Linked DNA regions of Homo sapiens. The protein of the gene in region 1 interacts with the protein of each later gene in a biochemical or structural test. Each region holds a gene or a part of one and is shown in the gene's direction. Other genes may lie near its edges. The genes, in order: CLK1, MAP3K21, CDCP1, TMPO, DSC2, PKD1L1 and ITGA5.

Region 1 (3,500 bases):
TAGACAAAACTAGTATCACTTAAAATAAGTACCTGATTACTACCATTCGTTTGTTTCCAATGAGAGATTTTGATGGTTTGTAATGTTTGTAAAATTAAGCTGCTTGTGGGGGAGTCTAGGTGCTGTCTTGAAGAGAATGTGAGGATATTTGGTCTTAGCATAAAACATTGAAAATAATTTTTATTTCTCTAGCCATTATTTGGAAAGCAGGTCTATAAATGAGAAAGATTATCATAGTCGACGCTACATTGATGAGTACAGAAATGACTACACTCAAGGATGTGAACCTGGACATCGCCAAAGAGACCATGAAAGCCGGTATCAGAACCATAGTAGCAAGTCTTCTGGTAGAAGTGGAAGAAGTAGTTATAAAAGCAAACACAGGATTCACCACAGTACTTCACATCGTCGTTCACATGGGGTATGAACGTTTTTAAAACATTTTGGAAATTTTATATCCCATGTGGAACAGGGAAACTTGAATTTTTGTGTTTGATTATTTGAGAAAGTTTTAAGATGAAATCATCTCAGTTTTAACCTGCAGGATTTTTTCTGTGTTTGTGCATTGGATAGGAAATTCCGGAAATAAAGTACACATTTAGTTCTATAATTTAATTATTGGTTGGCTCCTAATTGACATTCCAGTGAAATGATGGGAGTTAATTGATTTAATTTAGATTAGTTGAAAATTATTACAAAATATTCTAAAAGGGTTTTTTGTGGTACTTCAAGAAACCTGATTAGTTTTGATCTATTGAAATCACAAAAGTAGAACAGGGCATTTTATTTTTGTATAATTTAGGATTAGGTATGCTTCTTTGTTCTAACAAGTCATGTTTTCTAACCCTTCTTTCACTAAGCAAACCAGAACAGATTTGAACTGTTATGGGTTATATATTAGTATGGAGATCAGCTCAGATGACATTAAAAATGCCGTAGTGTTATTCTTGTATGCCAAATCTTTTTTTCCCCAAAATTAGCACTTTAATTTTATTTACTGTTATAATATTTGTTTTCTTAGATTAGGTAGGAAATCTTAATTTGGCCACCGCCTACTTTGACAAGTAAATATTACATCATACGATTTTGCAACATTAAATTAGAACACTAGAAACTAAAAAATTATGTTTCAGTGAATGCTACAACTAAGCATTTTTTTTTTTTAAGAAAAACAATTGTATTATGTTTTGTTGCCTTGCCACTTTGAGTATCTTATCTGAAAATCTGTTCCTTGCCATGTTTTTCTCCTGTTAACATAAACTATGTGCCCTGTGAATTTCTGGGGACTGAATTTGAAATTGCTCCTGCCAACCGTTTGTGGCCTGGCGTGTATCTGAATGCCTGAATATCTCCCCGCTGAATGAATTTCGTATTCTGCCCTGAATTCACTCGGGTATATTGATTGGCTGGATGATCTTGGTGCCGCCCACTTGACGTTTCCAGAAGAGTCACCGAAGGAAAAGAACCAGGAGTGTAGAGGATGATGAGGAGGGTCACCTGATCTGTCAGAGTGGAGACGTACTAAGTGCAAGATGTATAGAATATTTTTCAACACTTATTAACTTTTCAGATAACATAATCTATATATAGATTAAGCTTTCAGGGATTTGGAAATCTTTTTTTCTTTCTCTTTTTTGTTTTTGTTTTATTTTTCCATTTCTTTTGGTGGGGGGGATTGTATTTTTGCTTTCTTTAGAAATGTAATGTTTGTTATATAGAACTTCCAGAACAGTAATCAAATTAATGAAATTAGACCTAATAATTATGTTTTTTGATGGTGTTGACCAATAAAATATCTAGTGATAAGGAAATTTGTAGCATCAACTAGAATAATCTACATTGATAGCATTTATTGTGATAAGTACATTGTTTCCACTTCTTGATATGACTGAGATTTATTTCTCTCTTTTAGATGAAATTGTTGATACTTTAGGTGAAGGAGCTTTTGGAAAAGTTGTGGAGTGCATCGATCATAAAGCGTAAGTTTCCCATGTTGGGATTACTTTTAGGGAAGTTGGCAATACAGGTAATTGATTTAGCTTTAGAAAGTGGTCTGACCATGAGTTAGATACATATCTTTATACCCTTTTTTACTTGGATGTAAGACACTTCCAGTTAAGAGGTACTTGCCCCTTCATATTTTTTAAACAGCTACTAATAGTATGTATAATTTCTAATTTTAGGCTGAGAACACACTTTATATTGTTTTGAAAGTATTGTTTTGTTGTTCAACTGGACACTGTTGTTAGGCCATATTTTTTTCCCCCACCATATTAGTGGTTCTCAGCCTTGGTTTTATGTTAAGATCCTCCTCGAGAGGTTTGCCTACCCCAGACCTTTTCAGGGTAGTTACCTAGGAATCTATATTTTTAGGAAGTGCTGTAATTCATTCTGATAACATAGCTGGAGATAACTTGGTGTCCCAAGTTTAATTATGTATGTTTATCAAACTACTGATTGAAATTTTTTTTTTTCTCGAGACAGAGTCTCGCTCTGTCACCCAGGGTGGAGTGCAGTGGCGCAATCTCAGCTCACTGCACCCTCTGCCTCCCGGGTTCAGGTGATTGTTCTGCCTCAGCCTCCTGAGTAGCTGGAACTACAGACACGCGCCACCATGCCCAGCTATTGTTTGTATTAGTATTGTATTGTTTGTATTAGTAGAGACTATGTTGGCCAGGCTGGTCTCGAACTCCTGACCTCAGGTGACCTGCCCACCTCAGCCTCCCAAAGTGCTGGGATTACAGGCATGAGCGCTTGGCTCCAGCCATGAAATTTCTTAAGATAGTATAGAATTTTTTCCGTTACTCTTTTTTTTTAGTTCCCTGTTTGTTGTTGTTGTTGTTGTTGTTGTTATTGTTCTTCCTCTTCCTGAATGGCAAAGCATTTTTGAGGGGGCTTCCTACTATTGATTGGTAAGGACATGAGAGCTAGAGCTCTTTTTTTGTTTATTTTTCTTTTCCCTGAGATGGAGTCTTGGTCTGTCGCCCAGGCTGGAGTGCAGTGGTGCAATCTTGGCTCACTGCAACCTCCACCTTCCGAGTTCAAGTAATTCTCCTGCCTCAGCCTCCCAGGAAGCTGGGATTACAGGCACACACCACCGTGCCTGGCTAATTTTCATATTTTTGGTAGAAATAGGGTTTCACCATGTTGGTCAGGCTGGTCTCGAACTTCTGACCTCAAGTGATTTACTACCCTCGGCCTCCCAAAGTGCTGGGATTATAGGCGTGAGAGCCACTGCTCCCGGTCCTAGAGCTCTTTACTCTTTCCCCACTGTATCCTAACTCTTTTGGCAACCTGGACTAAAAGAACATTTGAGATAATGTTTGACAGTGACAGGTACCATATAGGAAGAAGTTGTTTAGCTGAAATACCAAAAAATAACTCATGTGAGTGGTGGTTTGATGAAAGAAATTTGTGTCATTCAGCATGTAATAGAATCAGAACTGAACACTAAACCATAAATTAAAAAAATACAGTGGGTCAGAGTAGTAGTACAGTTT
Region 2 (3,500 bases), on another chromosome or scaffold:
CTAAAAAGTTAAAGGGCCTATAGCTATTACTTTTACACTGCACTTAGTTTTGTTTGGTTGCAATACTTTTCAAAGTTCATACAACACAGGGTAGAGAATGTTTGCTAGTGTTTTTAAAGCATGTTTTAAAGGATGTTTATCCATTCCTATGGGTTAATCCATAGGATTTATGGATCAATCAACAATCCATAGCAATTATTGCAAATAGTAAATTTTTATAAAGTTTTATAAAGTTTTATAAACTTTTATAAAATATAAATGTTTAAAGAACTCCTAATATTATTAAATGGTAAAAAGAAATAACATGACCCTGGAATAATAACTATGGCCGAACAGTTTTTACTGACACCAGAAAAACTTGTATAGTGGAGTATAGACTACTGTGTATTCAGTAGATATTACATAATTTGATGGTGATTACATGCTGCTACTTAGTTTTTGAAAGACTTTTCAGTCTCAGAATAAATTGCCAAACTTCCCGGAGTATTTTAATTTCTATAATTGTCAGGCAGGATTCCCTTTGCTTTAAATTGTTGCACTCTTATAAAAGACTTAATTAGCTAGTCACTAGCCTGGCCAAGTATTTGTTACAATATGACCATTATCATAGTTATTTAATTACTATAAAGTGAAGAGTTTGACTGGGGTCTAGAATGTGCAAACCATGGTGCCTCATACATGGTCTTTATCCTGAATGTCTGATTTTATTTGTTCAATGAATAAATGCAGATTTGAAATTCTCTGCTGATATATGAAGCTATGACTTCTTGTTTAGACTTTTAAGTATAACAGATACTCTATTGCAGTATGTTTTGTTTGATTTTATTGGATATTTGCTAATGGTGGTAGTGAGTTAGTGATAACGTAAACAAGGTTTTAAAAATCAATATTGAATTTTATTTTCACTCCGAAGTGTACTCATGTACCAAAGAGCTAATAGAAGACTACTTGGAGCCAATTCAGTGGAAATTACTGTTTTAAACAAATATTTAAATTTGTCTAGAGAATATGTTACTCTTGACAGATTTTCTTTTATCTTTTCTAGTAGATCTTCTCAAGTTTTATCATATCTTGTGAGGGAATGTCTGTGTCTAGATAATAGCTGATATGTTGTGAATGATATAAACAACTTTGTCCCTTTTCTAACAGGTAGCAACAGGTTGAAAGTTGTGCCAAGTTAGCAAGCTTTAAGCAACATTTATGTTTTAAATAAATACTAGGCCCTGTAACTCCCTTCTGGATGCAAAATAAGTAGAAAATACTTTATATAAGTCTACCTATAGGCACCCCCCAGAGAACAATACAAGGCAACTTTGAGTTACTGTGAAAATCGCCAGTGTTATGCGCATTTACAGAAGAGAGAAACATTGTGGAGAGCTGGAACTCATTCAACACTGTTGGAATGCCCACCCTGTGCCAGTCACTTCTGGGCCTCAGGGACACTGGCAAGCCAGACATCAATGACAACAAATCTGCCATCATAGAGCTTAGTCTAACGGGGAAGATAGATGGCAGTCACGTAATAACAAATAGATTAGAAAATGCCATCAAGAAAATTAAGCATGGTAAGGGGTGGAGAGTGGTAGAGTGGAGGATGGGGGTGCTGTTTCACACAGGGGCTCTCCAGGGAAGGCACTCCGAGGAAGGACCACGAATTCGTCAAGCAAAGACCCAGGCAAAGGAAAGAGGAAGCAAAAATGAGCCTTCCATATTGGAGGCCTAAGGAGAAGGCTGGTGAGGAGAGGCATGCGTGGGGCAGGCCTGGCAGGCCTCCCTCTGCTGTGCACATGGAGGTTTCACTTGGAGTGATGGTGCTGGCTTCTGTGAAGAACGGACTGCAGTGGGCTCAAGTGATGGCTTTCAAGGTTGTCTATATGAGAGGAGGCACCGACTCTGCCCAGAGTGGTAGCAATGGAAGTATTTTGCAGGGAGGTTACCAGGGGGCAGTGAAGATAAAATACTGCAATATAAGAATTCCCAAGGATGGTTTGAAATATTAGAATTTTGTTTAAGAGTTTTATTTATCAAATTGCAGAAGTGCAAGATTGAAGTAAGATTATGTGGCATCATGTATGGTTTCCTTTTTCTTTTTTGATGTTGCTTATTGTGTTCTATTTTTTTTTTCTTAAGAGGAAATAAACTTTCCATGGGGAACTGAGCCACAAATTATGGTAGCTACTTACTTTTATACTTTTTATGTCAGTGATTAAGCATTTATTATCTCAATTTTTTTAGTCTTTTAGGAATAATTATTATCTATCTACAGTATTATTTACAACTACAATAGTTGTATTTATTATGAAATGCCATTTGGAGCTCTTACTATGACAAACTGCAAAAGGAATATAAATTTTGTTTTAGCTTTTTTTCATTAGTACTGTGTAAATAAAAGAACTATCTGAGAAAATTATGGAAAATGTAATCTCCAGATAAGATGTTTAAATAGCTCATCAGAGTGATTTGGGGAAGCTACTAATTTCACTATTATCAGTTGTAAGACATAAGTTCCTTCTCTCTTCTGTTCTTATACTCAGGACATGTAGCTTCATGCTATAGCTGCTTCCTATTCCAGGAGGCACAGAGAAGTCAGTCCAGATGTCCCAATGGTAACTGAGATCTACATCTGCTTTTGAAACAAAGTTAGTGAAAGATTAGACTTTTAGAAGAATGGCAATCACAAAAGAGTCACCACATCTTCCCCCATCATTTTCATGTTTGCGTATTAAAAAGTAAGTAGCTGGCCAGGTGTAGTGGCTCATACCTATCTATCATCCTGGCACTTTGGGAGGCCAAGGTGGGAGGATCGCTTGAGCCCAGGAGTTTGAGACCAGCTTGGGGAACATGGTGAGACCCTGGACTACAAATATTAAAATTAAAAAAAAAAATAGGCAATGTCTTATTTTTTTGTAGTTGTGAGGGGTATAGCTAGTTAGTTCTGAATTATGCAAAGTATCCGTATTTGATCAGTTTTGTAATCATTATCAAGTATATCAAAGCAGGGTAAAGGAGACAGAGGAAAGTATTTATCTGCTCTACCCATTTAAGAAGGTCATTTGTAAGCCCTGCTTTTTCACACTAGCATTTAAGTGCTAAACCTACCAGAATAGTGCAGCTAAGGGAAACAGCATTGGCTTTTTTGTGTGTGTTTTTGTTTTTTTGAGACGGAGTCTCGCTCTGTCCCCAGGCTGGAGTGCAGTGGCACGATCTTGGCTCACTGCAAGCTCCGTCTCCCGGGTTCACGCCATTCTCCTGCCTCAGCCTCCCGAGTAGCTGGGACTACAGGCGCCCGCCACCACGCCCAGCTAATTTTTTTTTGTATTTTTAGTAGAGATGGGGTTTCACCGTGTTAGCCAGGATGGTCTTGATCTCCTGACCTCGTGATCCGTCCGCCTCGGCCGCCCAAAGTACTGGGATTACAGGTGTGAGCCACCGTGCCTGGACTTTTTTTTTTTTTTTTTTTTTAATACAAGGTCTTGCTGTGTAGCCCAGGCTGGTCTCAA
Region 3 (3,500 bases), on another chromosome or scaffold:
CTGATCTTAGCTTGGTGCTTTCAAAAAGCTGAGGCTCAGCCAAGATCATCTGAGACAACTGAGATTACTTGGCTTGACTCTACATGATCTCTTGTTCTCCAGCCTGGGCTGTTTTCATGGCAGAGGCAGAGAGATCCACAAGAGACTGGAGGAGGCATATAAGGTCTTTTGATACTTTTAGGTTAGGAACTCACACACCATCCCTTCGACTGCATTCTTTTGGCCAGCCTAGATTTTTTTTAGTCAATCTACCAGCATCCTTTACCATTCATCTCTCTTTTACGTAGGGGAAGTCTCTTCACACCTATGATCTTCCTCATCTACAGAGAGTAGATAATAATAGCCACCTCATAAAAGTATCATGGGATTCGGTGTCATGAATTAAAATATGGGGACCTGAAAAGTCTGACAGGTACATGGTTTTTTGTTTAGTCTCAGTGAAACGTTGGAATCCATGAAATACCCTCAGTGGGAGGCCTTGGAGCCAGGATGATGAGTTTGCCTTTATTCCTCAAAGTCATGGGCACCACTAAAGGGTATCAAGCAAGGGAATGCAGGTGTGGCAGGGCAGGCTGTGGTGGGGCCATGTCTGCCCTTTACTCAGTGAAGGCACCGAGCATCACAGTGTCAGAATCAGAAGGGACTGTGGAGGCTGCTTTTTTCCCTTTCCCTTTCTGGGGGTCAGAGTGATTGAAGGTCCATCCAAGCCACACAACTGGTTAGCCTCAAGAGAACTGGTGGGAGCCAAATGCCACAAGTGAAAACCTCTCCACACTCATAGATTATATCCTGGGTTTTCTTCCTCTCTTAGATTCATTTTCTGTCATTTCTTTCCATTCCTCTTTCCTTTGGATCTCACCTTTTGTTTTCTTGGTGAATAAGCAAGACATTCTAATTCGCTGTTTGGTACAGGGTTCCCCCTCTGATTTATTTTCTTTTTCCTTTGTGCAGCTGCAGGAAAAGGACAGCACAAAGGAAACAACCCTCCCTTTAGCTGCCTCACTTCTGACTTTTGACTCCCTGCTTTCTCCTACCCTCCTCTGCTCTTCTCTTCTCCAAGACAGGCTGTGGCAATCAGTGGAACACACCTGTTGTAGGCCAGGAGTAGCCTTTGAAGTTGATCTGGTAGGTCCCTCAGTTTGTTTCAATTGTTCATTGCTATATACAAACTACCCCAAAATTTGGTGGCTTTGGCAATAGCTATTTTGTTTACCCACGATTTATGGATCAGGAATTCAGACAGGGCACAGCAGTGTATCTTATCTGTGCTCCAGGATATCTGGGGCCCCAACCAGAAGCCTTGAACAAGTAGAGAGGATGGCTTGGAGAATTCAACTGGAGACATATGTCTATGGCCTTTGGTTCTCACTGGGTTGATTTTTTTCCCCGGTGGAATCTCTACATGGCTAGCTTGGGCTTTCTCACAGCATGGTGGTCTCAGCATAGTCAGACTTCTTACATAGTAGCTGGCTTTCTCTCAGAGAGAAAGTGCAAGCTGACATCCTCTTAAAAGTTAGGCCCAGAACTGGCACAGTTGCCTTATATTGGCTGACCCAGATCCAAGAGGAAAGGAAATAAACACTTTGTGATATGAGGAGCCCCATGTGCACACAAGGAGCCACATGTATGGCGCTCCACCTTTGGAGAGATGGCAGCTGCTTTTGGAGATGCCTCAAGTTCATTGCAGAGCTCACCCCAGCTGCCTCTTCATCTGTCTCTTTATGTCTCTGCTCACAGACTTGACTGTCATCCTCATCGCAGCGGTGGGAGGTGGAGTCTTACTGCTGTCTGCCCTCGGGCTCATCATTTGCTGTGTGAAAAAGAAGTAGGTGGAATCTCTTACTCTCTTTATCTGATTTGATGCCTCCTCAGATCACACAGACTGGGTGGATTGTTCATTATTGACTTTGTTTTCTTGCTTCCCATTTTTTCCCCCAAAGATCAATGTTAAACAATATTGCCAGGTGTGAGTCATGCTTTCAGGAGAAAAAAAATCCCATGCCTGGGGGTGAGGGGGGGATAAAACACACGTGACATTTTCACCTGTATGTAGTTCATGGTGCAGCTGCCTCAGCACAAGTCCCCTGCAAGCAGAGTGCTGTTTGCTCAGTAGATTGATCAAGCAGGAGTGATCTTGGCAAGAAAATGCTCACGTAGGCTCTGCCAGACTGTGCCTCTGAAACCACTCCCTCCGTCACCCTAAGGAGAACGAATGTGTGTTGTCCCAGCTTGTTCTCCTGCAGTTTCTTAAGCAAACTGCTTTATCCTTGCCTGTTGGGCTCCAGGTATGTAACAGAGGCCAGGCCTGTGGCCCAGAGGAAGGAAGGCCCAGTTAACTGCCTCAGTCTCTCTTTCCATCCCCTCAGGAGGACAACTTCTGTTTTATTTATTTATTTATTTATTTTTGAGACAGAGTCTTGCTCTGTTGCCAGTGGTGCAATCTCGGTTCACTGCAGCCTCCGCCTCCTGGGTTGAAGTGATTCTCCTTCCTCAGCCTCCCGAGTAACTGGGACTACAGGCACACACCACCACGCCCAGCTAATTTTTTTTGTATTTTTTTGTAGAAACGGGATTTCACCTTATTGGCCAGATTGGTCTTAAACGCCTGACCTCAAGTGATCCACCCACCTTGGCTTCCCAAAATGTTGGGATTACAGGCATGAGCCACCGTACCTGGCTGAGCTTCTATTTTATAAAAGGAAAATGTTGACCTTTTTAGACAGAGTCCGTGCTGCCGCCAAACTGTATAAATTCTGCTCATATTTCTGACTAAAGTCATGGGAGAGAGAAGAGAGCTATTTTCCTTAACATGGTTTGACCTTCCAAAAAGCCAATCTGAAAAAATTCTTTTTTTTTTTAAGACAGAGTCTCACTCTGTTGCCAGGCTGGAGTGCAGTGGCGCGATCTCGGCTCACCGCAACCTCCGCCTCCCGGGTTCAAGCGATTCCCCTGCCTCAGCCTCCCGAGTAGCTGGGACTACAGGCACCCGCCACCACGCCCAGCTAATTTTTTTTTGTATTTTTAGTAGACACAGGGTTTCACCATGTTGGCCAGGATGGTCTCGATCTCTTGACCTTGTGATCCACCCGCCTCGGCCTCCCAAAGTGCTGAGATTACAGGCGTGAGCCACCACACCCAGCCAAAAAATTCTTTTTTAAAAATTAACTGTGGACCTGAGCAAAGAACTGAAATTCCTAGTCTACAACAAGACTGTCTACAAATGTCTCTGCTGATGAGGAAGGACTGGCTTGCAGGAGGTCTTTTCCCCATGAGAAGTGGCTGTACCTATAACACATGGGGGAAAAAGGACTGCTTTTAAGGAAACATCATGTTACTGTTTCTCTCAGGGAATTTTCCCATCTGCGGTGCACGGAATAGCCCACCCAGTTGGGGAAGCATGGCATTAACACTGGGCCCCAGGTTCCTTATCAGGAGGGAATTGGACAAGGAACGAGATCCAGCACTTGCCTCATCTTGAAACAGCGCCAGTTTAAGCCTGA
Region 4 (3,500 bases), on another chromosome or scaffold:
CAGCCTCCTGAGTAGCTGGGATTACAGGTTCCCGCCACCATGCCCAGCTAGTTTTTGAATTCTTAGTAGAGACCAGGTTTCACCATGTTGGCCAAGCTGGTCTCGAACTCCTGACCTCAGGTGATCCACCCGCCTTGGCCTCCCAGATTGCTGGGATTACAGGCATGAGCTACCGCACCTGGCAATAAATTGCTTTTGATTTTTTTTATTTTGCTTTTTCCTGGAGTATATTAAAGCAGTCTTTGACATAGTGTTTCACACATTAAAAAGTCAGCATTTTAGCATATATCTCTGAAAGATAAGTGCTATTCCAGTGACAATGCCAATATCACACCTAATAAAATTAATAATTTATTTGTATCTAATTCATGTTTAAATTTCTCTAGTTTCAGAAATGTTTCGTTTATGATTATGTTGTTCAAATCAGGATCCAGACAGGATCCACATATCCGGTTTGATTTTTGGTTGTTTTACTCTCTCAAGTCTGTAGCTGTTACCACTGTAACTTTTTCTCTTCCCTCCATTTATTTGGTGAAGAAACCAGGTCATTACAGAATTTCCCAACATTCTGGATTTGTTAGGTTGCTTCTTTATGTCATTTAATTAGCTTCTCTATACGCTGCATTTTCTGTAGAGTGGGTTAGATCTGTAGTGAGGCTATGCAGTAGACCTTTCTGTGATAGAAATTTTTCATACCTGTGCTATCCGTTACAGTAGCCACTAGCTATTGAATACTTCGATGGTGACTAGTGAGGCTGAGAAACTCTGTTTTGCTTTGTTGTTGTTGTTGTTTTTGTTTTTGTTTGTTTGTTTTTTGAGATGGAGTTTCATTCTTTTTGCCAAGGTTGGTGTGATCTCAGCTCCCCACAACCTCTGCCTCCCAAGTTCAAGCGATTCTCCTGCCTCAGCCTCCTGAGTAGCTGGGATTACAGGCATGTGCCACCACGCCCGGCTAATTTTGTATTTTTAGTAGAGACGGGGTTTCTCCGTGTTGGTCAGGCAGGTCTCGAACTCCCGACCTCAGGTGATCCACCCGCCTCAGCCTCCCAAAATGCTGGGATTACAGGCGTGAGCCACTGCGCCTGGCGGAAACTATGTTTTAATTTTAATTTAAATTAAATTTCAATGACCATATGTGGCTAGTGGCCTACCATATTGGACGGCACAGATCCAGAGGGTTGGTCAGATCCATGTCCAGTTTCTTTCACAAGAATACTTAAATGATATAGCGGCCTTCCTGTTACATCGTTTTAGGAGGTATAGAATGTCTTTCTGGCGATGCTAAAATTAGTAATTGATTTAGATTTTGAAAGATTAATCCATCTGTTATAAAGATCCACATTGTCCTTTCATTTAATGGTTCTAACAGCCATTGTCATATGATTATTGCCTAGGTCTATTATTTTGAGGTTTTTTTTATGTATTGAATTTATGATCAGTTACAGTCATCATTCTTTTTTGATGTTCACATTGTGCCATCTGTAGCCATTAGGAATTACTAAGTTGGTTCCTGTATTTTTTAATTCCTTCCCCCATTTATCTTTGATAGTTTCTTGTTTTCTGGAATAGTAAGACGTCCCAGGCTCATGTATACTTCCTGCGTCATGCCTGGAATCAGCCATGTTTCTAAGGAACCGTGATCCTTTTAATAGATAATACTATTTGGAAGCAACAATTTGGATGCTGACATGTTCATTCCTACTGGTTGTCATTGTTTCTGGGTCTTTTCAGTAGGTAGTGCTAGGTAAATCATGAATTAATGGTGATATTTCAAATTTATAAATACAGGCTAATTTTGGGTTATGTTATACTTGTATCATTTTTATCTTATGCTGAATATCTTGGTTCTTCAAATGATGTTGTTACTTATGTAAGTATCACAACATATATGTGTTTCTAAATAATACAGTATTACTACTAACAATAAGACTGTTAAATGCAATTTGGGCTTTTGTTTTCCTTGTCTTTAGGACATATCCCACTAGAATGTAATGTCAAAACACTGTGCTTAAAGTCACTTGAAAGAATTTTTTTGTGTCATACAGCCACCAACTTAATAGTTAGGTTTTTTTGTTCTCTAATGCTAGGATTGCTTTTTCTTTTATTATTTTTTAATTGTGTTGAGAGTATAATGTAGTTTTATGTAGGCAAAATAAGGTAGAGTCAGAATTTTGGCTTCTGTCCTTTTCCCTTCCATCTACAGATAAGCATTTTTATTGTTTTGATTTATATTTTGTTTCTTTTTAAAAATATAAGTAAATATATAGATTTTTATATGCTCCCCTTTTACATAAAATGCAGCCTGCTTTGTACATTTCCATTTTTAACCTAAACCTAGAGATCACTCCATATCGGAACGTAGCCATCTTCCTCATTGCTTTGTACAACTGCATTTTATGTGTTGCATTTTATGGATGTACTGTAATTTATTTAACCACTCTCCATTTGGTGAATATTTGAGTTGTTTTCAGCTGTATGTTGCTATGAATAATGCCAGGATGAACCATGGAGCAGCATTTTGCATGTGTCACTGCATATTTTTTGCCAGTTTATCTTGGGGAAGCGTACCAGTAAAATTGCTAGGTAATTTCACCATTACATTTCTCTGCATATGAGTTGAAGCATTTTGCATTCCCACCAGCAGTGTTTGAAAGTACTGTTCTCAAATGGAGGAATATGAGGCTTTTTTGTTTTGTTTTGTTTTTTAATAAAGTTAGTACGAGTAACCATATTGGTCATGTTTTACTTAAATTGATAGGCCTTCAAGATGGCTTTTAGTTATCTCAGGAGCTTTAGAAATTATCTATTCCCAGACCTGGAGAGATTCTGATTTAATTGGTTATGGTAGTTGGGGGCATTTGCTTTTTTTTTTTTTTTTAAAGCTCTCCTTGATGGTACTGTGCCACAAGGATTGAGAATCTCAGATTATAAAACTACCTTTCCGTCTATTCAAATAGTTGGTAATTTGACTATTAAAAACCACTTACTCTGGCCAGGTGCAGTGGCTCACACCTGTAATCCCCGCACTTTGGGAGGCCCAGGTGGGTGGATCACCTGAGGTCAGGAGACCAGCCTGGCCAACATGGCAAAACCCTGTCTCTACTGAAAATACAAAAAAATCAGCCAAGTGTGCTGGTGCGTGCCTGTAATCCCAGCTACTCAGGAGGGTGAGGCAGGAGAATCACTTGAACCTCGCAGGTGGAGGTTGCGGTGAGTGGAGATTGCACCACTGTACTCCAGCCTGGGCAACAGAGCGAGATTCTGTCTCAAAAAAATAAATAAAATAAAAATTAAAAAGCAGTTACTCTGTGTATGTCTGTAATTTGTTTACAAGTTTCTCTTTTGACAATAATTTTGCATTCAGCAAATACTTCCTAATTGATAGGATGAGGAACCCAGAGATTCAGATTGTGACTTAAAACTCTTATAATATCAATTCCAAATATAGATAAATACAAAACCATGATTTATGAGACTATGTCTGTAACTTGTGGGGTTTT
Region 5 (3,041 bases), on another chromosome or scaffold:
TCCCTTTGTGACTGTACCTTTGTATCCCTACAGAAAATCTGGGCATAGCTGAGAGGTTAGAATTGTGGAGTTTCTGCTAGCCACATCTTTTCTGTTTACTTATTTTGTTAGGATTCAAGGGAGAGGACAGAGCAGAACACTCACTGCTTTTCAGTTAACAAATATGAAGGCAAACTTGCTGATATATTCGCTTGTATAATTTTTAGAGTGTGTTTCACTGACCATCAGCATCAGAATCACCCTGGTGTTGCTGAAAATAGAGATCCCTCATGAATCAGTCACAGGAGTAACAGGCTAGTAGGGGAAAAGTATAGAAGCCTTCACTTTTCAATACATTTTCTAGGTCATTTTTTCTTACTCTAAAGTTTGACAATCGTTAGGGTTTTAGTAACTGGGTTTATTGATTATTTGGTGGTTTATGAAACTTAAGTATTTAAAATTTGCCTTTTCATATAAAACATATTAAGCAAAATGCTAGAAATGTACCAAAGAGTTGAAACACATTGATGAGTAAAATTTCACAATGTCTGCAAATTAAGCATTTCAGAATGTACATTGTTCCCTGTGGTTTCTACTTTCTACATGCATGTGAACGAGAGAAATAGTCTTAAGGTAGGAATGCAGAACAAAGCCACACAGAAAACATTTAATAAAAATTAACAAGTTTTGCCACATAAATGCTGCTAGTCAAGAAGATGTATGCAAAGTAAGTTGCATATATTTTTAAAAATCAGAATTGCCAAATCTCCAGAGATAAATAGAACTAGAAAGGTCAACAGCAGGTGGAACAAGTGACTGTCCAGAAGGCAGCAACTGTTTGGCATCACTGTGCTGTTGTGTGGGGACCTGTGTCAGGTGGGGTAACAGGTAATGCTCACTGACTGTGGCGGCCAGGAGCTTCAGAGGGGCCTGTGAATCAGGGATGGGAGATGAGGGTAGAGACGAGACTTTTCAGCTTAAGGAGTGTTCCCCTGGGAACAGGGCCAATTGGAAAACTCCCAGGCACCAAGGACATGAGTTAACCAATAGGGAATGAGAGGCTCAGAAAGCCAGAGGTGAAAGGAGCAGAGGGTGTCAATATACACAAGATGTGATGCAGAATTACCAATGAAATCAAGTAAAAGGGATTTATCCAAAAGAAGTAAGAGAATAGTGTAAAGATTCTACTCACATGCAAGGATGTTTGTCTCAGTGGCATTAAATATATGAATAACTGAAAATAAACTAAATGTTCCATGACAGGGAAGTAATTAAATGATGTATGATCCATTACTGTGATACAATGTACCATAATTGAGGACAATGGAAACAATGATCACACACAGACTTCGCAGTCAGAAAGACGTGGATCCAAATCTCAGCTTTGTTCTTGCTGTGTTACCTTGGGAAATCACAGAAACCTCAAATTTCTAGCATATCAAATAAGGACAAATTAGGAATAAATTATATAATTCACATAAAGATCCTAGCTTACTGCTTGGCTCATCAGTATATCAATAACCAGCAGCTATCACTATTGTGATATGATGATGGAATATCATGCAATCATTTTATTTTGAAAACTTTAATTAAATGGGAAAAGACATAAACTATAGTAGTATTTTAAAACTAGGATAGGTTTCCAAATTATTATAATCTCACATTTAAATAAATATGAGACTATCTGTAATACACTAAGATATTGAGTGATAAATCCTCGGTAAATGAAATATTTATTCATTGTGTGTTTCCATGTTTTCATTTTACCACAAGCATTTATAATTTATAACATTGAGGGAAAAGTTCATGTAAATGAAATACAGAGCAAGAAAAACTCACAGGCTTTAGAATTTGGGGAGCTTACAGGCCTGTGAAGAAAAGCCTTTTCATCTTAGCTTTAATAAATAAAGTTTTCACTGAACATATTATATTTACAGTAAATGATTAAATTGAAAGCAAAAAGAAAATACTGTATCATCTCACATTATCATAACTGAGTGCATTCATGTGCTTTTGGTCTTAAAATTTTACTTTAACGCACTTAGGATTTGTCGTCAGTAATTTGTTATGCACTATCTAGACTAAGAATAGGTATTAATTTACTAGAATTGTCAAATGAAATATTTCAAGCAAAGTTTGCATAATGAATGCAAGTTTAAACCAATTAAATGTGTTCACTTTTTAGCAAGCTAAGCTGCTCCTTATTTCTCCTGTAGTAGACACAATCACAGTTAATCTTTGCACAATGCATCGCATTCTCCATGCAACCTAACAGAGCGGTCTGGGATAGAGCCTGAACTTTGGGTCCCTTGGGGCCCAACAGGCAAGGTTCAGATCTGGGCTCTACCACAAACCATCTGTGTAACCTGAACCTCCCTAGTCTTCAGTTTCCTCATCTGCTTTAAAAAATTGCTAGAACATAGTTCTATGTAAATGTTCGGTGTTAAAATTTATTTGGTATCTACTGTATGTAAGATATGGCCTCTGCTCTCAAAAATATGTAGTCCCAGAAGTGATATAATATGTTCACGGAGACGTACTATTAAAAAGTGCCACAAAAAATCTGTAATGGAATGTTCTTACAAATATTACGTGTGCGTGTGTGTGTGTGTGTGTGTGTGTGTGTGTGACCTTTTTTAGCAAGAGATGTCCCAATCCCTTCACATTTACATCATTACAGAATTCCTTTGGAATCAATGGCAAATGTCCTCCTGTGGGGAGCCAGGTGTACTGTGAGTTTCTGTTATCATTCAGGGAAGAAAGCTGTCAAAAGCTTGCTTGTTTTAAAATTGTAAACAAGTTAGTGCTGGACATTGGGAATTTTACCTTATTATAATAAACAAAATCAATTTTGTTACTTGTTGAGCCTTGTTCCGGCGGCAGTTTAAGTTATTTATTAAACAAATAAATTGAGTCCTTTTGAGGTTTCTTCTTAAGTTTTCTTAGGGCAGGTTTGGTGGAGACTTTAGGGCTAACTTAAGTCCTTTGCTGAGGTGTGACTCCACCAAATGTCCAGAGTTTTCAGAGGAAGATCTTTTCTTTCCACTGCCTCAAACTTCAAT
Region 6 (4,183 bases), on another chromosome or scaffold:
GGACACCCGTAGCTTGGTTCATCATTGTTCAAGGGGTCTGTGTTCCCATCTGAGAAAGAGCTTGTGCCTGAAAACGTTCCCACTCTTCTTGGTATCACTCTCTTCAGAGTGGAGAGAAAAAATATCTAGTGTTCTGAGTAAAACATTAAGTTTTCTAAAATCTCTGAAGGTTTAAATGTTGGTATAAAGAACTAAGACAACTAACAAGTGCTTTAAAAATATAAGAGAAAATGTTTCGTAATGGAGAGAACTCAGTCTGACCCGCCAGTTGCAAACAAGGAGAGGTGCAGGAGGTTCGGAACCAGATCATTCCTAGGTTCTGCCGTAAGACAGAGTGCGCCTAGTGTGTGCCTTGCCAGCCTTCCTTAGGAATGCTCTTCTGCTCTTGTGGAAGGTATCCTGTTCCCCAGTGCAGTTGTGGACAGTTACAGCTTTTTTTTTTTTTTTTTTTTTTTGAGACAGAGCCTCGCTCTGTTGCCCAGGCTGGAGTGTGGTGGCACGATCTCGGCTCACTGCAACCTCCGCCTCTCGGTTTCGAGCAATTCTCCTGCCTCAGCCTCCCGAGTAGCTGGGACTACAGGTGCGTGCCACCATGCCTGGCTAATTTTTGTATTTTTAGTAGAGACGGGGTTTCACTATGCTGGCCAGGCTGGTCTCGAGCTCCTGACCTCGTGATCCGCCCACCTCGACCTCCCAAAGTGTTGGGATTATAGGCGTGAGCCACCGCGCCCAGCCAACAGTTACAGCTTTTTATTCTCAGACTTCTCTCAGCTTCCATGTACAGTCTCTCCCTTGAGTAGTGATCTGTTTCAGGCAGCCACAAAGATCCCTACCTAAAACACACTTTTGTTTTGTTTTGTTTTGTTTCATTTTGTTTTTGAGGCAGAGTCTCACTCTATTGCACAGTGGTGCAATCTCGTCTCACTGCAACCTCCACCTCCTAGGTTCAAGCAATTCTCTCGCCTGAGCCTCCTGGGTAACTGGGATTACAGATGTGTGCCACCACACTTGGCTATTTTTGTATTTTTAGTAGAGACGGGGTTTCACCATATTGGCCAGGCTGGTCTCAAACTTCTGGCCTCAAGTGATCCACCCACCTTGGCCTCCCAAATTGCTGGGATTACAGACATGAGCCACCACGTCTGTCAAAAGCACACTTCTTAGGAAGGAATTTGTCTGACAGTGTTAGGAAAACAAAAGCTGTTTCTGCTTGGGAAAATGTTACTGGAGTTTGGATTTTTCCCTCTGTGTTTGATGTGTGTCCTGATAAGAGGTCACAAGTACAGAAGCTGGAAGCATTAAGCTCTATTTCTTTGTCTTCCAGAGGATGTAGGAAGAAGCTGGTCTGCTGACTGTCATACTTGTGACCAGCTTGCACAGGACATGGCCGAGGAGGCAGCCCAGAACATTTCTGATGACCAGGAAAGGTGAGTTATCACTGTTCTCAGAGGGTTTGGTAAGCTTGATTTTAAAGTATGCATTCAGAAATTTTCTTTCAAAAGTCATCACCTCTAGGATGTGGGCTCACTCTGGCACGAGTGGAGGCCCTGTACCAGGAGGGTGCATTTGGCCGGCGGGGTCAGTTCAGAGGTTGGAGTTGGTGTTGAGAATGGAGTTTTTTCCTGAAGGCTTTTGAGAAGACTCCTCCAAGCGGATGCCTTCAGCCATGAGAAGTGCTGATTGCTCTTCCTGCAAATGCAGGATACCTTCCAAGTTCGAGGACTTTCTGCTGCCTGGTAGTAGACAAAGTTAAGCTATCTGCTTGTCTGCTAGGTCCCTTGCATGGAGACCAGGAGAAACCTGGCACAGGAAGAGATCATGGGGTCTTGGCCCAGGGGTCTTATTTCTTTTTTTTTGAGACGGAGTCTCTCTCTGTTGCCCAGGCTCGAGTGCAGAGGTGCGATCTTGGCTCACTGCAAGCTCTGCCTCCTGGGTTCATGCCATTTATCCTGCCTCAGCCTCCCAAGTAGCTGGGACCACAGGCGCCCACCACCACGCCCGACTAATTTTTTGTATTTTTAGTAGAGACGGGGTTTCACTGTGTTAGCCAGGATGGTCTCGATCTCCTGACCTTGTGATCTGCCCGCCTTGGCCTCCCAAAGTACTGGGATTACAGGCATAAGCCACCGCACCCAGCCTCCATGGGTCTTATTTCTAAACCCTCTTCCCCATGCTCTGTGCGCGCCAGCACCCATGTGTTGTTGAGGCTGGGCAGCCTGTGTGCTCTGCTGTTGACTGTCTCATGGCAGTGTGACATGGTGCAAACCTCCATGCCCCCTTTCCTGGGCGTGAGGCCAGCAAGGTGACCTGCCTGTGGGATGTGGTAAGGACCCAGGTGGGTCACCGCTGTCCCCTGGCCTGGCATGATGGGAGCCTGTGCCTGCAGATCTTGCCCAGTGGGGTACCCCGCCACTGCAGGTCACTTTACCTCCTCACCCCCAGATTTCTCATCCTGAAAATCTGAGTACCCCTGTTGTCACATCTGTAAACTCCAGAGGGTCGTTATAAAAATCAGTATCCTTGATGAATGCTTGCTGTCAGCATTTCTGCCTTTGTTAGCTTACTGTCTTTGTGCCATCACCATCATTTTATCAAAGAAACCCAAAGCAAACCAGGATGAGAAAATGAGGCTGCACGTGTTGACGGGGTTGGTCACATTCATGCTTGGAAATTTCTTTGCCTTATGTCACTCACTGCTGCCAAGCATTGTCTGATTTTGGCTACAATTTTTTCCCTTATTTTTTCTGGTTACCTCATGTTTCTTTTATTCCAAATGCCCATGCTCCTGCAGACTCCCAGAGCCTTGATGTTGGCCCAATTTGACCTTCACTCTTATCAGTCAGGGAATTGCAAGGAATTACCCCTTTGCCCTTAGAAAGGAAAGAAAAGCTGAGGAGCGGAAGTCGCTGACTTGATGTTTTTTCCCCTGTATATTTATACATCTTGTACTTGCAGACCAACTAGTTCATGCACGCACTAGCCATTGTAATTGGTGTCGAGGCCCCATTTCTGAAGTCATAGCCTTTTGGGGTTTCCTGAGTCACCTAAAGCAAGACAGTGACTGATCTTGTTCATAGAAACAGAAGAGGTTTCTTGACTCTCCTGTAGCCCTCATTTCATGGAGTTAGGCCTGTAGTGTCTGTGTGTGTGTGTGTGGTATAGGACATGTGTGTGGGTGGTGTGGTGTGTGGTCTGTGTGTAGTGTGTGGTGTATGTGTGGTATGGTATGAGTGGGGTATGGTGTGTGTGTGATACATGGTGTGTGCTGTGTGATGTGTGTGTAATGTGTTGGTGTGTGTGTGGTGTTTGTGTGTATGGTGTGTTTGTGTGGTGCGTGGTGTGTGGTGTGTGCGATGTGTGTGTGGTGGGTGGGTATGTGCTGTGTGGTGTGTGTATATTGTGTGTGATGCTGTGTGGTGTGTTTGTGTGGTGTGAGTGTGGTGTGGTGTGAGTGTGTGGTGTGTGTTTGTGTGGTAGGTATTTGTCCTAATGCTCTCCCTCCCCTTGCCCCCCAGCCCCTGACAGGCCCCGAAAAACACTCACTCTTAAGGGATTCTAAGAGATCTGTCATGTAATTCAAACAAATGGCTCGACTAGTTCCCTTGAGGCACATGATGCCTCAGAGACTGTGTTTGAGCCATCAGTATCATCCTGTTCCCCGACAGTCACAGTTAACTAAGAGGAAGCCAGGTACCTCTGTGAAAATGGTGCTGATTCTGTGCCAGGGCCTGGGGACCTGCCTCCTCACAACACCAGGAAAAAGAGCCTCCCTTGTATTTAAATTATCTCCCCCTTCCATTTTTTTTATTTGAAAAGACCTCTGAAATCTCAAGGAAAATTAGCTTTGCAGCACTATCCTTGGCGCCTCTGTGAGTGGAGGACACACCTGTTGGGGATGTGTTTCTCACCTTCTGAGACAGAAAATTACTTCTCAAGGGCCAACTATGTCCCAGGAACCAGGGCTGGTGTTTTCTGTGTGTAGCACTTGGAAGTTATCCTGTTGTGGGGGTGTCTGGGAGGGTCTCGGAACTTGGTGGGTGCCAGGGCTATCTAACCTTGTGTGGGCCCAGAGTGGTGGGCAGTCTCACAGCTGTGGACTGTGGGGCGCACGTGGTGGACAGAGGTTAGGTTCGTCCTTTCCTTAATTTTATTTGCCCGCTAGATCATTGCAGAAATCCTCTAA
Region 7 (3,500 bases), on another chromosome or scaffold:
CACCCGAATTCTGGAGTATGCACCCTGCCGCTCAGGTAGGGGCAAGAGGGGGCCTGTGCCCCATGTCTGCCTTCTCATATACTTGAAGTGTCTCACATACTTAGGGTTGACTCGCACCTACCATGTGCCCCCATGAGGTTCTAGGTTGCTTAAGATAAAGGCTAACCCAGTTCGTTAGCCTTTATGCTTACTGTCTGGTCCAGGAAGGCCCTTTCTCTGGTTCTCTCTCCCACCTCCTTCCCTATGCCCTCTCTTCTTTCCTGGATGACCCATCTATGCAGGGCTCATTTTCACCACCTTCTCCCCTCACAGATTTCAGCTGGGCAGCAGGACAGGGTTACTGCCAAGGAGGCTTCAGTGCCGAGTTCACCAAGGTGAGAGAGTGGTCTGGGAGAGAAGGGGCCGTGGGTGGTGGACATGGGGGGATTGGGACCAGATGTTGGACTCCCCTCCTTTCACCCACAGACTGGCCGTGTGGTTTTAGGTGGACCAGGAAGCTATTTCTGGCAAGGTAAGTCCTGTCTCTGCCATTCTTTTTTTTTTTTTTTTTTTTTTTTGAGACGAAGTCTCACTCTGTCACCCAGGCTGGAGTGCAGTGGCACAACCTCTGCTGCCCAGGTTCAAGCGATTCTCCTGCCTCAGCCTCCCAAGTAGCTGGGATTACAGGCGCCTGCCACCGCGCCTGGCTAATTTTTGTAATTTTAGTAGAGAAGGGGTTTCACCATCTTGGCCAGGCTGGTCTTGGACTCCTGACCTCGTGATCCACCCCTCTTGGCCTCTCAAAGTGCTGGGATTATAGGCATGAGCCGCCGCGCCCTGCCTGTTTCTGCCATTCTTTAAGTCCCCTGGCACATAGCCTCCCACCCTACTCCCAATTCTCCTCTTCCTTTCCTGAAGCTTACATGCCACCACCCTCCCCATGCTTCCCTTTCTTGAACCAGACTTCTGAAATACTACCCAGTCAGCCCCCAGAGTCCCAAGCCCCCTCTGCCACTTCCTCTCCATCTACTCCCTCTTCATACTCTCTCCAGGCCAGATCCTGTCTGCCACTCAGGAGCAGATTGCAGAATCTTATTACCCCGAGTACCTGATCAACCTGGTTCAGGGGCAGCTGCAGACTCGCCAGGCCAGTTCCATCTATGATGACAGCTACCTAGGTGAGCAAGCAAGTGGGGAAGGGATGGCAGAGGGAGAACCTCAAGTGCTCCTGTCCCCACTCACCCCCTCGCCTCCCCTCTCCTACTCAGGCATCCCCAGCACCCCTGCCATACTTGTCATGTGCCTGCTGACTATGAAGGCCCAGTAGGGGTGGGGAAGGGATTGGTGGATAGGCCAGAGCAGAGGGGTCCTCAAAGCAGGAATCCTAACATCCACCCACCCTGTCCCCCAGGATACTCTGTGGCTGTTGGTGAATTCAGTGGTGATGACACAGAAGGTGAGTGTGTCCCCAGGCTGGGGCCAAGGGAGGGGGATGGTTAGAGGCACAGGGCCAGAGAGCCCATGAACTTGGCCACTTACCATTATCTGCTTCCCTTTCCCCACCCTTAGGTCACAACTTTCTCTTCTCTTTGCAGACTTTGTTGCTGGTGTGCCCAAAGGGAACCTCACTTACGGCTATGTAAGACCCAGCCTGACCCCTCACTTCCTCTCCTCCCCTGCCTAATCACAAAGAACCGTGCATGGCAGTTTGCAAGGGCTCAAAAAGGTGGATCAGAACATGGGCTCTGGAGGCAGACTGGCATTCAAGTTCTGGCACTTACTCTGGCAGAATCATTCTGCTCTTTATTCATACTCTGCTTCCTGCTGAACCTCTCTGAGCCTTCTTCTTCTCTGTATACTGGGATAACAATCGTTCTGACCTCACGAGGCTCTGGCAAGGATGAAATGAGAAAATGCATGTGAAAGTACTCAGTGAATTGTTAGGCAATGTACAACTGGCAGATGTTATTATTAGACCAGGACAAGTGCTTTTTAAAAGATACAGATAAGAGTGCCATCGGATTTCATTCAATTAACAACATTTATTAAGGCAAGGTAAGAGATAAGATGAATAAGGTATCATACCCCATCTTATAAGATGCTTCTAATCAAGTATGTTAGATAAGACACACATACAATTATGATCTAAAGTGGAGCAACTATTCATTCTCTACTCAGTGCATCAGGCACTATCTATTCATGATTTCTATTCTTCACAACAAGCCTATGGGGTAGATATTATCATCTGTATTTTGCATATGAGAACACTGAGGTTCTAAGAGACCAAGTAAGTTGCTTAAGATCACCCAGTTAGTAAGTAGGTTTAAAATCAGGTCTCTCTTAATCCAAAATCAGCATTCTTTCTGCATTTTGGTAAACTTCAGCAAAGTGGATACAGTGGCATAGCAGTTTAGGGGAAAGAATAATCTCCTTTCTAGGAAAAGGATGGTAACAAGTTTGGGGAGTCAGGAAATAAAAATTTTAAATTTTTAAAAAGGAAGAGGACAGATGAGAGAAGGTTCTATGAAGGTTCAGCAGAGATGAGGCAGGAGGGCATCCTGTGCAGGAGCATGAATGAGGTGGAAGAAAAGGAAACAATTTCAGCCCAACTTAGCAGACTCATGAGCTGATTGAGGATGAGTAGAATATGGAAAGGTTGAGCAAAAACAGATAGGTTAGGGCCAGATTCTCCAGAGCTTTGGAGGACCAGCCAAGAAGTTGAGACTTTGGGCAGTGACTGCAGGGGGCCACTGGATTTCCAAGCCAGAGGTAGCCTCCTAGATCTGCTGGGAGAGCTGGAGGCAGGGACATTGTCAAGACATCTGTCCAGCAGTCCTGGGAAAGGGCTCACACCAGGATTCAAGAGGCCTGGTGGGGCCAGTCACTAAGGGAATATAGGGGAGAAATGGTGTTTGTGGTTCGGGGGACTGGAGGATGAGGATGACTTAGGTTTTGAACGTGATGGGTTTGAGGCACCAGCACACATTCAGTCATAATTATTATTGAGTGCCTACTACTCACCAAGCATGACTTTAGGTTCTGAGGAGAAAGCAAAGAACAAAATCAAGTTCCTGCCCCTATTGATCTTACATTCTAGTGGGTAGAGAGGGACAACGAACAGATAAATACAAAATCTGTCAGTGGTTGGTGATTGATAGGGAGAAAAATAGTGAAGCAGACATAGGGTGGAACTACCTGGCATAGAGGTGGGAATATGAGGGCAAAGCTGAAGAGGGAGCTAGGGACAGTGGTCTGCGTCTCTAAGGAATGCCTGCCCCTGGGTGTCCTGTACACATCTGTTCTTTAACCATGGGATATTCTGGGAGTCCAGGACCAATGGGCCTATCTCTTCATCTCCCAGGTCACCATCCTTAATGGCTCAGACATTCGATCCCTCTACAACTTCTCAGGGGAACAGGTAAGGATACCCCTCAACCCCACCCCAGCTTGGCCTCTGTCAACGAAGCCCCAGCCCTGACCTAATAATGTCAGCCCAACTTCCCAGCCCCTCTTGATCCTGT

Evidence for each region.
Region 2: of the proteins of CLK1 (region 1) and MAP3K21, one has a biochemical effect on the other in vitro, tested with the Homo sapiens proteins (one large-scale study listed by BioGRID).
Region 3: of the proteins of CLK1 (region 1) and CDCP1, one has a biochemical effect on the other in vitro, tested with the Homo sapiens proteins (one large-scale study listed by BioGRID).
Region 4: of the proteins of CLK1 (region 1) and TMPO, one has a biochemical effect on the other in vitro, tested with the Homo sapiens proteins (one large-scale study listed by BioGRID).
Region 5: of the proteins of CLK1 (region 1) and DSC2, one has a biochemical effect on the other in vitro, tested with the Homo sapiens proteins (one large-scale study listed by BioGRID).
Region 6: of the proteins of CLK1 (region 1) and PKD1L1, one has a biochemical effect on the other in vitro, tested with the Homo sapiens proteins (one large-scale study listed by BioGRID).
Region 7: of the proteins of CLK1 (region 1) and ITGA5, one has a biochemical effect on the other in vitro, tested with the Homo sapiens proteins (one large-scale study listed by BioGRID).

The regions. Positions count from the first base shown.
Region 1 is NC_000002.12:200,858,159-200,861,658, reverse strand, and holds part of CLK1 (dual specificity protein kinase CLK1), read left to right. Parts: intron 1-192; coding exon 193-421; exon of another isoform or gene 422-1,443; coding exon 1,444-1,534; exon of another isoform or gene 1,535-1,912; coding exon 1,913-1,979; intron 1,980-3,500. UniProt on the Homo sapiens protein: Dual specificity kinase acting on both serine/threonine and tyrosine-containing substrates.
Region 2 is NC_000001.11:233,330,724-233,334,223, forward strand, and holds part of MAP3K21 (mitogen-activated protein kinase kinase kinase 21), read left to right. Parts: intron 1-3,500. UniProt on the Homo sapiens protein: Negative regulator of TLR4 signaling. Does not activate JNK1/MAPK8 pathway, p38/MAPK14, nor ERK2/MAPK1 pathways.
Region 3 is NC_000003.12:45,087,379-45,090,878, reverse strand, and holds part of CDCP1 (CUB domain-containing protein 1 isoform 1 precursor), read left to right. Parts: intron 1-1,737; coding exon 1,738-1,825; intron 1,826-3,500. UniProt on the Homo sapiens protein: May be involved in cell adhesion and cell matrix association. May play a role in the regulation of anchorage versus migration or proliferation versus differentiation via its phosphorylation.
Region 4 is NC_000012.12:98,539,590-98,543,089, forward strand, and holds part of TMPO (thymopoietin), read left to right. Parts: intron 1-3,500. UniProt on the Homo sapiens protein: May help direct the assembly of the nuclear lamina and thereby help maintain the structural organization of the nuclear envelope. Possible receptor for attachment of lamin filaments to the inner nuclear membrane.
Region 5 is NC_000018.10:31,058,340-31,061,380, reverse strand, and holds the end of DSC2 (desmocollin-2 isoform Dsc2a preproprotein), read left to right. Parts: 3' UTR 1-2,541; downstream 2,542-3,041. UniProt on the Homo sapiens protein: A component of desmosome cell-cell junctions which are required for positive regulation of cellular adhesion.
Region 6 is NC_000007.14:47,945,641-47,949,823, reverse strand, and holds the start of PKD1L1 (polycystin-1-like protein 1), read left to right. Parts: upstream 1-1,383; coding exon 1,384-1,427; intron 1,428-4,183. UniProt on the Homo sapiens protein: Component of a calcium-permeant ion channel formed by PKD1L2 and PKD1L1 in primary cilia, where it controls cilium calcium concentration, without affecting cytoplasmic calcium concentration, and regulates sonic hedgehog/SHH signaling and GLI2 transcription.
Region 7 is NC_000012.12:54,405,767-54,409,266, reverse strand, and holds part of ITGA5 (integrin alpha-5 precursor), read left to right. Parts: coding exon 1-35; intron 36-312; coding exon 313-374; intron 375-465; coding exon 466-511; intron 512-1,031; coding exon 1,032-1,157; intron 1,158-1,390; coding exon 1,391-1,435; intron 1,436-1,574; coding exon 1,575-1,618; intron 1,619-1,760; exon of another isoform or gene 1,761-1,870; intron 1,871-3,340; coding exon 3,341-3,397; intron 3,398-3,500.